Homo sapiens: one gene and its partner. The protein of the gene in region 2 interacts with the protein of the main gene of each other region in a biochemical or structural test. Each region holds a gene or a part of one and is shown on either strand. Other genes may lie near its edges.

Region 1 (7,608 bases), on a different chromosome or scaffold from region 2:
AATATCTCTGATAAAAAGTTGTTCTGTCATGCTGATGCTTTTATTTCACACTGTTTTATAAACGGTCCAAAAATACTAGATCTCTTCAATACAGTTCAGGATTTTTTATGACTTCTAAAACCAAATAAATAAACAGAAGAACAGGCTACTACATAACAATTCTTGGTTAAGAAGTACTACTTAACCATTTTTAAGGTAAATGATATTAAACAAAGGCTCCACTTTTTTTTTTTTTAACCAGATACAGAAAGGATGAGATCTCTGAAGAAGAGACCACGGATGACTAACAAACGCAAAAACTTTTTTTTTTTTTTTTTTTTTTTTTTTTTTGAGATAGAGTCTCACTCTGTCACCCAGGCTGGAGTACAACGGTGCGATCTCGGCTCGCTGCAACCTCTGCCTCCTGGGTTCAAGTGATCGTCATGCCTCAGCCTCCAGAATAACTGGAATTACAGGCGCATGCCACCGCGTCTGGCTAACTTTTGTATTTTTAGTAGAGACAGGGTTTCACCATGTTGGCCAGGCTAGTCTTGAACTTCTGACCTCAAGTGATCCACCTGCCTTGGCCTCCCACATTGATAAGATTACAGGCATGAGCCACCGTGCCCAGCCAAAATAGCTATTTTAAATAAGGTCACTGAAAAAAAGACTGGGAGAGAAAAACTAAAAAAAAATTATTGCAAACAGCTAAATGAAAGAAATAGAAGAAAATTTCTTTACATGTGGACTTCAAAGAATGAGTGGTTTTAGGTCTACTCTTCCACAGATTTGGCCTTAGAACCCCTGAGCCAGTTTTTTCAACCTCTTTCTTTGGAATCAATATATTACAAATGACACATCAATTCAAACTAACCAGGAAGACTCTGACTCAAGGAATAAATCCAGGCAGGGCATAGTGGCTCACGCCTCTAATCTCAGCACTGTGGCAGGCTAAGGTGGGTGGAGCACTTGAGCCCAGGAGTTCAAGACCAGCCTGGGGAACATGGCAAAACCCTGTTTCTTAAAAAAAGAAAGAAAGAAAGAAAAGAACAATTAGCTGGGTGCATGTACCAGTAGTCCCGGCTACTTGGGAGGCTGAGGTGAGAGGATCACTTGAGCCCAGGAGGTCAGGGCTGCAGTGAGCTGTGATCACACCACTGCATTCCAGCCTGGGCAACAGAGTGAGACCCTATCTCAAAAAAAAAATAGTAATTACACAAAAATTAGCTAGGCATAGTGGTGCACACCTGTAGTCCCAGCTACTCAGGAGGCTGAGGTAAGACTCTATCTCACAAAAAAAGAGAAAAAGAAAAACAGGAGTAAATCTAAATCCAGGAGTAGCAGCAGACCTAAAGTTAGGTCAACCAGCGAGAGAAGAATTTGAAATATGGAGCAAGAATGCTGTGACCAGCTAGCTCAAGGAAGGAAGTGGTCCAGTATAAATTAAGCATTAGTGTTGTAAAGCCTTTCTCAATCCCCCACTGTGAGAAGGAAGTCTATTCGATTTTTTTTTCTCATCAAGTAGGAAGACTTCCCAGTACTCATTCTACCCAACCTGTCTCACCCTCCAGCACTAGCTTGGCTACCTTTACACAGCTGCTGCTCGGGATACACTAAGCACAATTATTCCTGAATATTTGTGTCTTGTGTCCTCAGATCAGAGAATTCTATTACAGGTAACAAGTATGGTCCAGATAACCAGGCAGTCCAAAGGGAGACTGAGGCTTGGCTGACGCTGAAAAACGGTTACAGAAGGACAAGTGCTGGCACAGAGCCTTGGCCACCCATCTCTGCCCCCAAGTGCAATTCATTTTCTTTGAAAGAGGAAAACAGGCAAGGGAGAAAATATATAGAATTGAAAATACATTATGCAAATGTGGCTAGCAAGGATTAAATTGTTAATTTTAGAGAAATAGGAGAAAGATGCCCAAGTTGTGCTGAAGCAAGGAACCAGGACTTTCTTAATAATTAGTTTTGTCAGTCCAGTAGTGTGCAAAGGTTGAGCTGCTTGTCCCCAGGGACAGAAATCCCATAATTTTGAAAGTCTTTTGACCAAGAGCTGGCTCAAAGCAGAATATGTGCAATGCGTTTCTTAACTATTGAAAATCTTGTCACCACGGGATATAGACATGCTAGTCAGACTTCCGTACCATGACAGAAGGTCAAATCTGAAGCAGTAAAAGAGATCACATAAATATTGCCATCTCATTTCCAAGCTAGTCCCCTTAACTATTAAAACACGGTGACCAGATCGCTGCTTCGGGCCTCCTGAACTCCCGCCTCTCCCACCCGGAAAGTACTGACCCAGAGAGGACACACCTTTGCTTCTGCGCAGCCCAACTTCTGCAAGCGCTCAAGAGTTAATTACTCCTTCACCTTCCTGGGGCCTAACAGCGTTACTGGGTCCTGATTATTTATACAGACGAAAAACGATGTTCAAGAGATTTTGACAACTTAAAAAAAAAAAAAAGAATGCGGTGGAAGTCTAAGATTGCCTCCCCTATGACAAAACACAGCCCCGCCGGCCGCCCGGGCCCGACTCCGCCCGCCCGCCCGCCGCAGTTTCGGGGCTGCGGCCCGGGGGACGCGGGCGCGGCAGGGCTGGGGTCTCCTCCGGGAGTCGCGGGGCGCACGGGCCGGGAGGGGCACGCGGGCGGCACCTCGCACCCGAGCGGCTCCCGGGCCCGGCGCCCGCTCACCTGGTGCGTGTTGTTGGCCAGCTTGGCGACGAAGTCCCGGACCCGGCCGCACTCCTCGTCCTCGCCCGGCGCGCTGCGACGCCAACGGCCGCCGCGGGGAAACGCGCCCCCGGCTGCGGCCGCCCGCAGCCCCCAGCTCACCCCGATGGGGCCAGACCAGCGCGGCAGCGGCGCAGCGGGCGGCGGCGGCGCGTCCAGCCGGTCCTGGCTGAGGGTCGACGGCGGCAGCAGCTGCAGGAGGAGGAGGAGGCCGAGGCCATGGGGCCAGCGCGAGAGGCCGTCCGCAGCTCCCCAGGGCCGCTCCATCGCCGCCGAATGCCGCCGACGCCGACACCTGCCGCCCGGCGCGCCCGCCCACCCCCGCCGGCGCGCGCCACACCCCCGAGCCGAGCGCGGCGCTCCTTGGATACGCGCGGCCGGGCCTCTCCGCCCCATAGGCTGGCCGCCTGTCCCTCTTCCCCGGCCCACTCCTCATTGGCTCGCGTCGCCTCCGGCTTCGGGGGTCCTGGATTCGGATGCTAAGATGCGGGACTGATTGGCTGGAACGGGGCAGAGACTGCTGAGGTCAACCCCGCCTCGCCCGGCGTCTCCCGGGCCCGGCTTGTGGAGTTCACGTAGGAGCTTCTCATACCTTCCCGCCGAGCCCCGGGCTCCTGGCGTCGCGACCCCTTGCCGCACCTCTAGCGCCCTCAAGTTGGGGCTGGGTTACGTCCCTCCTGTTCCCCAGAGACACTCCTAAAATTCCTTCGGTGAGGCAGAGCCTGGAAAAACCTACCCAGGAAATCCCTGAGCTTGCTCAGCTGGAAAAGGGGGCTCCATCATGAACCGGGGCTTCGGGTTTTTATAAACCCCGCTCACTGGAGCGCCCATTGTCTGCTAAGCAGCTGCCTTGCTGCAAGAAGGTGAATGCGAACTGATGTGGGCCACATCCTACGGAGACAGACATCAGGACATCCGTGACTCCTGCAAGCCTGAAGAATAGTCTTTCCATACGTTTGGCCTCTCTCACCTTCCTCTTCTGAGGGGAGGTAGGCCAAAGGCGGAATTACTTACAGGTTTTCCAGGACTTCGAATGTAGCTTAGGCATTAGGGGCAGGTAAAAGAGGGGCAAGAGAATGATCCAATGCCTACTGTACACATGATCATTTCCTAGATGCACATTTATTTTACCAAAGTGCCTTAACTCTGCAGTGAGAGCTTCGGACAAGTTTGGTTCCAGTATGTGATGTCCTCTAAATTAGCACCCCGATCCACCTCTAATGAATAAAATAAAACCCCTACGCTGTTCCCTTTACCGCAGAAGCTGCACACACAACTTCTACAACACGTAGCACAGGTAAAACCAGTTCTGAATCCTTAAGCTTACTGACTCCATCCCTTCAGAAAGCTAGAAATTGTTCAGTAGAAAAGGTAGCAAATAGAAAGATACAAAATATGCAAGTCATTACACTCAAAGCAAGTAAAGATTACTTTTAATTATAAACTGGCCATAAACCCAAATGAGGATATAGTCATTGTAGAGCAAAATGATACAATGCACCCAACCCGATATTTACATTAAAATATTTCCAGTCACATTAACTTTCAAACAAAAAGACTTAACGAATTTACAAATTTTTCCAAGACGTGAGAAGTGAAAAATGTTTTTGAATGCCATCTGAGCAGGATAGTAAAATCACTAGAATAGTCTTTTTAAGTTCTCAGTTACTGGACTGAAAAGATAAAGCTGATGAAAATTGGTGAACAATTTGTTCCTTTCCATAACTACTATCAGATTAATTTAAAAAAGATTATTTTTAAATCTATGCCAACTATGGGAGTAGATCACAAGACAGTCAGTTCCAGTAGCATGTGATTAGGTGGGGGGAGGAAAGGGGGTTATAAAGGAATATTTCTTTGTTTGGGTGACACAAAGATGAATGGTCTATTGTCTTACTGTCTGAAAAGAAAAAACAACTCAACAGTGCCACCTCCTGGAGAAATTACCAAATACACTTTTAAACGCTATTAAATTTGTTCCAATTATCTGTACCTTCACTTTTTAGTATGTTGCTTTTAGTTATCACAGGCTTACAGTACTTATATATTTCCTTCTTCAAACTGTATCAGCTTCTGGGACATGGTAACTTGCATATGGCACTGAGAAAATGTTTGAGTGAATATATTTATTATTTCACTTTTTAAATTGGAAACCCTAGGAACTATATTTCATTTTTGTCTAATGAGATTGACATTAAATATAAAAGTGGCACTGTCAGTTCTCCTTTGTGAGATACTGGACATAAGATTTCACCTTATTTGCAGGACTAAAGTAAATTTATCTTATTACTAAAAACCGTACCTTTCTCCAGGAAACATTCTATAGCAGAAAGATAACATAAAGCAATTACACATCATGAAACCATTGCTGTTCGTAGTAAGATCACTTCTTTAACCTAAGAAAGCTTGTTTTAATATTCTACAAAAAAATCAAAGTTCTACCTCTTTGAAGAATGCCAATTATAGAAGGTACGAAATTTACTGTTTTACCAGGTAAAACACAAATATGCTGCCCAGCCAGTGGGAGGGAAAACAACTTAAGCTGAGGCGAACGGACATAGGCTAAGAGCTACTCCTTAGTATTTGGGCATTTTTCCCCCTATGAAATGCATGTGATTCAGAGACACAACTCACCTCTCCCAAAAGCAACATGGGCTTTATCCATTTCTGCATTAACCTAGAGTTAAAAAGGAATATTGTTTATTGTTTGGCTCTCCCCACTAGAAGTTTCACAGGAGCACAGATCATATCTACCATTTGAACAGCTCTCTGCCTGATGGCTAATACATTTCTTGGCATATAGTAGGTAGGTGCTCAATAAATTTGTTACAGGAATAAATGAGATAGGATTTTCAAGGGTATTTTCTATTAGGATTTAATAAAACAAAGTGATCTTTAGAGAAACAAATCTCCCCATCAACATGCTATACTTAATAAGTGTTAAAATCACTAGAAGTCTCTGGAACATTCAGTAACAATATACTCTAATTCTCTGCTTTCCTTATGTGTTATTCTAGGGCAAAATCCCTTTCTTCCAAATGTTTCCTATCATTGCAGTTTCCAAATGTATATAAACATGTTGTTTTTTGTTGAACTACAGTATGGATTTAGTATGAATTCAGCCTATCCAAATAGTCATAATTTATTAACATATAGTACAACTTCCTACACATCAATATACCCAGAGCCCAGCAAATAATTATGGGGTCCCTGTTAGTGAATTAAATCAATTCTGCATCATCCACATATGGATTAGCCATGTTGTGGACAGTGCAAGTACTTTTCAAATCTCCAGATTTCCCTATTACTCAAGAGCTGGTGATCTGAAACAAGAAAATTTGAGCTGTTCAAGTCCCAACAGCTTAATTTTGTGTGTCCATGGGCACACAGCATTAGATTCTTCATCTGTTAAGTAGTGATACTGATACCATCTTCCCGTGGTAATTTTTGAGGCTGAGATAGAATGATTCTTTAAACAATCTCCACCAATCATATGATGGCAGCTCTAATGGGGAAAGTTCATCATTCATTCCAAAGTCTAATGTAAACTGCTTCTGAATTTTACAATTCTCTTACTGATATAGAGATTTGTAATTGATTGCCAGTGAGGCCAAGGTCATTAATTTAATTCTTAGTCCTTCACTTCGTAAACAAGGAAATCTCTTTCCAAATTGTCTATCAAGACCCAAGAACTGGTACAACACTGTTGATGGCTGATTCCAACCCATCAATGTTTTGAGGAGGACCTCAAAACATGTTCTTCTGATAGTCAATTAGTAGCATCTCCTTATAAGAAAAGCAGCAAAAATACACGTTTGCTCCAGAAATTATAGGGCCGAAATGGATTTACAGTGCTGTTAACATCTATTAACCACTGGGAAGAGCTGGACTAGTTCATTTATCAACACCATGGGATTAATGGATATAGTTGATTCTGTTATAGAGCATCACTAAAACAGTTTTAGAACAGACATCTTCATAGAATAGGGATATTAATAACACTGTCCTTTTGGCCCACTAACATTTGCATTTCAAACAAAAGACTGTATTACAATGGCTGGGCACAGTGGCTCTCGCCTATAATCCTAGCACTTCAGGAGGCAGAGGCGGGAAGATCACTTGAACCCAGGAGTTTGAAACCAGCCTGGGCAATATAGTGAGACCTCATCTCTTAAAAAAAAAAAAAAAAAAAAGACTATTAGAAGAGAACAGTCTATTAACAAATATTTTAAAATTTTCTTTATTTCAGAACTGCCTTTATGTACAGACATCATTTAAAAAATGCACATACAATGGAGATTTTCCAAGGAACAGGAGCTGGAAATAAAATTTAAGGACATTATTAGAACTGAAATTGTCCCAGAGAAGTTCTGAGGATCAGGATTCCTTAAATGTCCTTGATAACCTCTTCAAGTTCTTCCTTTGTGAACATGTGGAAATTCTGGCCAGGCTGCACTGTGGCTAGCTGGAAAGAAAACAGAAGGGTTAATAAGCTGGGCTGAGTTACCCTGCTGATGGCCCTACCATGGTCAGGAGAAGCTGTGTTGGTGATGCAGCTATTCATTAGGAACTAAGGGATCTGCTGTCCCAAGGATATCCTTTCCAGGCAGCAGGTCCCTAAAATAGCTCTCTGGCTCCAAAATAAAAATGCTTATTGACCAAATTTTCTATTTTAAGGTTAACTCACCACATCATACTTAACCAAATGCCTGGCATCATTGTCACTTCTTGAAGTCACTTCAACAGGGATCACAAAAGCAGCAGCAAAGTACATGGAGTCAGTACTTTTTTCTGTTAAAGACTCCTTTAGAAATATATTTGAAGTATATTTAAATACTTAAAAGTTGAGCTTGTGTGTGTGACTTGAGGTTACTTGGCCACTCTGTGCCTC
Region 2 (7,919 bases):
TTTATGCTTTCTTTCCCTTTAAAAAATATTTTAAACTTTCTCTGAGTCTGGTCCAGATACGTAGGACTGGCTTTGTTTTGGAGGACATAGATAAAGACTATTTCTCTTTCTCCACTATCTGTATGTATATACTTAAAAAAGAAAAAGAAGAAACACCTTTGTGTGTGATGACCAGAGCAGAGACTGGGTCAGCAGAGGTCTTTATGGAATAAGAGACTTCAGGGGGCAGAAATCTCACCTCATTAGTTAACATGATTTGAGTGATCAAAACTTTAACACTCATCACCTCATTTCCTACGTTATCTCAGACCTGCCTGCATGTTCAATGCCCTGAACCTAATAAGCCCTACTAGAATTATAAGCACCATTTATTATTATTTTTTAATGCTGGCAGTGCTTGGCACCATTTCCTAAACGGAGGTTAAAAATTTGCCAAAGATGTATTCTACTTTTCTCTTTCTTTCCAAGATCTTTCAAGAGATGAGCTAAAAGAAGAGGTCTAATGGGTGAGTGATATTTTACAGCTTGAATTACATTAAAAGCCAGAAACATTCTGAGTCCAAAGTCTTTTACTTCTTAATACAACAAGAGCTAACATGTTTGATGTGTTTCAAATCTCCCCTTAAAGCCAGAAGCTTTGAGTTAATCACTTAAAGCAGTGTGAAAGTTATTCAATCAGTTTAAGAAGATTCGAGTTCAAATTAGAGGATTAATTTTAGTGGCTATGATATGAAAGATATAATGGTTAAGGTAAGGAATGAGGGCAAGGGTCTCCAGAACTTGAATGGAAAGAATTTCAGCTTCATTTATTTGATCAAACCACTCCTGAGAACCATATAAAATCACAGACTCTGTCATGAAGGAGGAATTGTAGGGAAAACCCTGCTACTACTCTCAGGACAGATACATCAATGCTAAATATTATCTATCATGATGTGCCTTAATACAATTTATATCTGTGTACCCAAGGAATTCATGATGACAGATTAGTATTTTAAAATGTTCACAACTCTCATTAAAAAGCTGACAATGAGCACAACTCACTAAAGTGGCACTTCTCTGGGAAGGTTTCTGGGAATTACATCACAACAGAAAACGTTTTGAAAGGTTCCAGACTGCGTAAATTGTGCATATTACAAACACTACAATCTCAATTACCTGGTTGAAGCTGTAAAACTTGAAATTTTTTTCCCCCATTTTACCCATCCTTGGTTGTTATGTTCTTGTCTATGTCTGGAGAAGTTTCCACACTTTAAAATCACTTTTAGTTATTACAATCAAAGCTGGTTCTCTACTATTTCAACTCACTGAAGTTTCTAGGTTCAATTTAAACAGGAATAGCTCCCTCAGATTGCAGACATGCAAGCTTTTCTGAAAATCTAAAACCTTTCCTGATAGGACCAAAGCTCATGGACTTGCATCCTAAGTCCCCTGGAATCCAGCCTCCTGGAATTGAGCAATCCCTTTCCTGCCTTCATAAAGGGAATGTTAAGTCTTTATTTGTGCTCTTCATTAGAGGAGGTCAGGCAATGGGGGAGAACAGGGAGTTGTTGTCACTGGGATATATCTGATCTTCCTGGGACTGACCATGCCAGAGAACAACCGCTCATTCACGGGCTGGAAAGCCCCAGTTCTCAAAACACCCTCGCTTAGCGCTGTTAGAAGATGCTGGAGAGTTCCTGCCCTGAAACTTGCATCCACTTGGTCCCTAAAGCAGAGGATACACTAAAGAACACCTTATATACTCTCCACTGCAGTTCTCCCTTGTGGAGAAGAAGGGGTTAGGAGCTCCGCATGAAATTAAAATAAAATAAAATAAAACGCCTACATATATGGGTCTTCTTAATCTTCTTTGAGCCAGTACATAGGTCTGGCAAGTAAAGGGAAAGTCACTTGAGGGGATGTCAGCTTGCCTGGAAATTTAACCCTTTCATCTCTGTATTAGGAGAACTTTAACCCCTCTGTTTACCTGGTCTTCAGTTCCACACACCAATGCGACCAAGGCAACAGGAAATAGGGATTTGACTCCTCAGTTTGAAGCTGTGGCATTTGGAGAGGACTCTGATGGTGTTGGTGGGAGAGATGGGGAGGTTGGTCTCCTAGTAGGTGATGTTAACTCTTGGGGGAAGTGGGCAGAGACCAGTTTGCAGCATCTCCCATGTCCAGAAACCCTATTTCCCCCCAATTCTCCATCAGATCACACAGCCGACTTTAACCCTTTCCATCTTTCCACCCCTTTACCCTCAGTCCCATTCTACTCACGCTGCTGTTGTGGCCAGACCAGTGGACCATGGCTTGGTTGTGTGCTGAGTCTCCCGTCAGCGCAAACGTGGTGCTGGTCAGTCTCAGCTCCTCCATCCGGAAGCGGGTGGCTTTGTCCGGGTCCCGCTCCCGAGTCCCAGGCTCCTGCTGCCCTCCATCTCTTAGCACTCCCCGGGGGCTCCGACTCGCGCCCTCTCCCCGTTCTGCCTTCTCCTGATCCGCTCCGCTCCGTCTCCTCCGGCCGGAGCGTGCAGCAACCGCCATGGATGCCCCAGTGCCCCGAGCCCGCTCCAGGGATAGCGCTCGGTCCCCGGGGGCCACTGAGAACAGGGGACGCACTACGAGGGGCAGGGGCGTGGCAGGAGCCCTGCCTGGCCGCCCCTGGTGGGAAAAGCCCCTAGGGGTCGAGGCCGAGCGTGGAGCGGAGCTGGGGTGCGGCGAGGGGCAGCAGGAGCCGCCGCCGCAGACGCCCGGGGCGCAGAGGATCAAGAGCCCCGCGCCGGCGAGGAGCGCGCTCAGCCGGGCTTGGGAGCCGCCGCCGGCGCCAACTTTTCCCATCGCGGGAGCGAAGAGCAGCGGAGAGAGGGGTCCCAGAACGAAGGTGGCGGCACGAGCTCTGCGCTGGCGGCTGTGGGGGGCCGGCGCTCAGGACCCCAACTCCATCCAAGTTGCGCCGCGGTGGGGGCGGGCGGAGGCGGCGCCGGGCAGGTGGCGGCCGCTTGCCCGGGCTGGGCTTGTGCCGAGCGCGGGTCCGGACGGAGCGAGCCGCCGCCGCGCGGGGGTGGAGCTGAGCTGAAGTCACTGGCGGAGCGGGCGCGGGCGCTGGCGGGCGACGCGGGAGGGAGGGCAGGCGCTGCCGGGACTCCGGGCGCCGCGTCCCGCGGCCGAGCTGCGCTGCGCACCGGGTCTCCGGGCGCTGGAGGCGCCGCCGGCGACCTCCCCTCGGCCTCGCAGGCGCTGCCGCCGCCTCTCCCCGCCGCCCACTCTGCGCCCCCGCGGCCGCGGGTCCCGGCGCTGAGTCCGCGCACCCTGCCCGCGGGGGCGGTCGACCCCGGGCTCCCGGAGCAGTCGATGTGTCGGGAGCTTCCTATTCCTGCTTTATTGTTTCTATGAGTCTATGTTGCTGTTTCCTTTTTTCTCCGTCTTTCTGGTCTTTTCTAGTTGAGGAGATAGGGATGGGTGGGCTTCTGCTCCTTCCCTCTCTTATGCTTCCTGAGTTGGCATCTTGACCTTACCCGCAGCAGAGCCTGTGTGTCCCAGCCTGGGGGGAGATCCCGGAAAGGCAGCAGCAGAGAGTGATGTAATTAAATGATCTCGTGTGTGAGTGTGTGTGTGTGTGTGTGTGTGTGTGTGTTAGTTTGGGGGATTTTTTTTCCCATCAATTTTAACGCTTAGATTTCTCTCCTAACCTCCTAAAGCATTCACTGAATTTGAACCCAATCTTCCTGCATGCAATCATATTTAAGAAAACGCTTTCCACTACGCGTTTTTTAAGCGTATATATCTTGGTTTCCCTAAGAGACTGCAAACTCATTGAGGACAGGAAGATCAAATTTCGAGCAACTTGGAGGAAGTGACCTGTTTTTTGTTTACCATTTTCCTCAGTACGTGGCACAGTACCCTACATGGGAGGAAATCTGCCAGTCATTAGTTCAATAAATATTTATTGTGAGTCTAATGCATATCTGCATAACAAATAAATACAGGAAAGGAGGCACAGTACTTATAGTTATTCTGTGTCACTTGGTGCCTGGCCCAGTGCTACTGCCACATGCTTTGAGATCCCTAATAGCAAGTCTGTGATGGTGCTCTGCCACTGGTTTGCTTTGGGACCTCAGACAAATCACAATCTGTCAGCTTCCTAAGCTTTAAAATTAAATGGTCACATTAGATGACCTTTAAAATCCCTTCCGCTCCTAAAATTCTATAATTGTATGATTATAGTATCTGCCCAGCCTAGCACCCTGCTACTATTCGTAAGTTCAGATGAAGATTTATAGCAGGTGAATGGGCTTTGAAAACGGCAAAGGATTTCTCAAAATCCAATCCTTTTTAAAGTAGACAGTTTGCTTCTAAGGGTTGAAATGGTTTCAGATTTCTTTGCAGTCTTCATATACGTAATATTCTCTTAGGTACATGTTATTACATTATTTAATGAATATTTACTGATTGAATAAATGAATGACACAACAAAATAGTACCGATTCCAGTTTCTAGTTACATTTTTGTTCATTTTCATACTAGAATAATAACCTCACTGAAAAATCTGTATACCGTGTTTGCGATGAGGCCAAGTTCAAAGTAATACAGAGTGATAATTACTCTTCAATTAATGAAATTCTTTCTAATGTCCAAGAAAACGTCTGTTATATCAATCCAATCCAGAGAGGTGTTGTAAAATATCGGCCTAAGTTCTTGTTCTTACGACCAGCGCAGAAAAAGTGCAAATGCAAGGAGGGCAGGCTTCTCAGCCATTAAACTTGAGTACCTAAAAGGACCTAAAAGAGTGTCCTGTTTGTCGTTAAAGAAGAAATACAAGCAAAAGCTCCTTTATGCCTGAATCCTCCAAAACAGAAAGGCTGTCTGGCAGGCTATGGCCTCTAGATGGAGGAGAGGAGAGCCAGAGGTCCTCTCTCCTCCTCAAATTGCAAATGTTCTTTGTCAAAACCCAGAGCGGTAGTTTTTTCTTTCCTCAGAAAGGTTTTTAGAGCTTTGCAGGATCATTTACTTAATGACTTCTTTCTATGCCCTGCTAACCTCCTTTCCAGTCTGGATAAGTACATGGGAATTCCTCCAAGAAAGGAAAAGCAGATTAAAGAATCAGAACCCAAATAAATTATCATCCAAATATAGGCTGGAAGAAGCAAAATGGAAAAGAAGACATTAGTGGATTCAGATTTCCTGGCTTTAGTCTATCATTGCCCTACCACCATTTATGTTATTTTGGTTTCAAAATGGAAGCGCTTCCTGAAGAATGCTCGTACAAGTAGAGTAGATTTTTCCTTCCCAGAATTTACAACCTCTTTTCAAACACACCTGTCAGAATGATCCCTTTAAAATGAAAGCATTTGCAGTCCATTTGCTGGGAGTTCATAGAGAGCAGGCAAGTTTTTAATGCCTGATTTTAATTATTCATTTGAGACAGAAGTTACACAAGTGTGGATGACATTGGCTGCAAGCCGTATTGTTCATATGTAGATAGATGGATTCATTTTATTTCTTATGGCTCTGCTCCCCGTTTACTTTTGCCAACAAACAGAAGCGGAAAGTACCAGTAATTTCCTAAATTATTCCCCTTATCTAGAAGACTCCAATAAATAGGCTAATCATGGAGGGGAGTCTATTTCAAGATGTTTTCAATCCAACAACCCACTAAGCAATCCAATAGATTTTTATTAATATAATATAATAAGAATGAGTCATTTGTTAGGAAAGTAATTGATATCAAAGGCTAGTAGAGAACATAAATCTGTAATTCCAATAAGGAGTCTTTTCATTGTGCACGTGACAAATATGCCACGACTTCATCTAAGTTATCATCATTTCTCATCTGGACTACCACAACAGCCTCTTACTGCTCACTCTACTCCATAATTGCACTGTTCCGTTCCTTCTCTCCAATAGTCATCTCCAAAGATGACACAAGTACAAGGGCACAAGCACACTCAGGTGATCCATTTTTGTGCAAGATGAAAATAATAGAATTTGGTGATATATTTAGTTTTAATCAGAAAGATTAAAATTTAGCCTTGCTAAAATATTTAATTATTGATTAATATACCTATGTTATATACAGTTTTATATACAATATAAACATATGTATATATATTCATATATATGCATATATATGTATAAAGAGAGAGACAGAAGCAGATAGAGAAAGAAGCAGAGGCAGAAAGACAAAGAATATGAACATTTAGTCATTGTATACTGATTGGTGTGCACAATCAAAAAAGTGTGGACACTCTGCCCTACAAGGCAGCAAAAGTAGTCTTTCAAAAGGATAAAAAATATAATTTATTGTAACTGCTTAATACTTCCTGCCAGCTTACCATCACAAACAGAATAATATCCAAACTCCTTACCATGGCTGACCAAGTACTCACTTCTCCATCACATTTGGCAGGATTCTCTACCCTCATCCTAATACGCCAACCATTAGGGGCTATCCTTTTCGCTGATGTGCCCAGTTTTTTCCAATTCGTGACCTTTGCACATGCTGTTCCGCCTGCCTAGAACGTCCACCGTCCAACCCCACTTCATATGGCTGACTCCTCTTTTTTGAGACCTTCACTTTAAATATACAACCTTAGAGAGACTTTTCCTGAACCTCTGCCTACAGAAGAAATTTATTCCACATTTTCTGTATCAATCTCTTGCCAGATCTTTCTAAGCGTATATTACAGCATTTAATTATTTTACTTAAACCTGTTTTTTGTTAATAACTTCCAAAAAATCCACATGTGGATAAAGGCCCTGTGCTCCTTATTTCAACATTTATTTTCAACATTAACCTCATTTCAACATTTCTTTCAGTGCCTAGTTAATTAAGTGCTCAATAAATAATGGCTGGTTAGCTGGGTGGCACCAGTATAACAAGCCTAGGAGCACAACTCTTAGTAACTAGTACTTTGTAAATCAGATATATACTCTATGCCAGAAACTATGCTATGGAGTTTAAATGTACCAGCTCATGCCTTTTTTTTTTTTTTTTTTTTTTTACAAAGCTTATATCACATAAGTACTATCATTCTCCCCACTTCACAGATGATATTAAGTAACTAGGGTCACACAGCAATTAGTGCAAAGAGACAAGGTTTCTACGTAGGCATTCTTATTCCCAGTATGTTCTTGATTTTATGAAATACTGTTTTACTCCAAATCCAACTAATAACAGATAACACTTATTGATGATTTTCTATGTGTCAGGCACTCTAATTGGCTTGAAACATTTTTAGTAATGCTGAGCAAGCAATTTTGGGAACAAGTGTGCACTTTTTTTAGGCTGAGGGGAATATATATACTCCCCATTTCTATTTGCTTTTATTTTGTGTGTGGGAAGTAATGTTAAAGAGAATGTTATAACCACTCCCCACATAATCTTACAGCATAAGCTACAGGTTAACTGTCTCATTGGTTTTTTGTCTTCCCTTTTTCCTAAGTCTCTTGATTTTTGATGGCTACTTTGGCTTCAGTTTGCACTAAATCACATTTATATGCCTCATCGTTTGAACAATGTCTTTTAATAGTTCTCAAAATATTTGGCTCCCCTTGGATACCATTGAGACAAAGTGTCTTGTCTTGCATTTCAGATCAATTTCATGAAGAACCACAGAAAGAAAACTGGGGAGAATAATATGCAGGCTATTCTCATTGCCTGCCAACAGAATGATGGGATTTTTAAAATCTGTCCCTTAAAATACTTTCAGGTATCAACAAATACAGACCTAGCTCTGAATCCAGTAATTGTACCCGTTCTCATACACCCAATCTAAGTGGTGTTAGTAGGAGCACATAAGCCCTCTTATCTTTAAAAACAGGGCTAAGATTATCTACCTAACTCATAAGGATGTTATGAAAGTTAATTCTACCTTGGACACCCGTTGGAGATAACAAAACTATCTTGGATTTGTGTACCCTCTGTCTCATCACACCTC

Evidence for each region. The genes of interacting proteins can lie anywhere in the genome.
Region 1: the proteins of SORCS1 (region 2) and SORT1 form a complex in vitro, tested with the Homo sapiens proteins (2 studies listed by BioGRID and IntAct, with this or other methods).

Annotation. Positions count from the first base shown.
Region 1 is NC_000001.11:109,394,909-109,402,516, forward strand, and holds the start of SORT1 (sortilin isoform 1 preproprotein), read right to left. Parts: upstream 3,011-7,608; 5' UTR 2,985-3,010; coding exon 2,679-2,984; intron 1-2,678. Other genes in the region: PSMA5 (proteasome subunit alpha type-5), read right to left, coding at 7,105-7,182.
Region 2 is NC_000010.11:107,161,707-107,169,625, forward strand, and holds the start of SORCS1 (VPS10 domain-containing receptor SorCS1 isoform a precursor), read right to left. Parts: upstream 3,001-7,919; 5' UTR 2,821-3,000; coding exon 2,263-2,820; intron 1-2,262.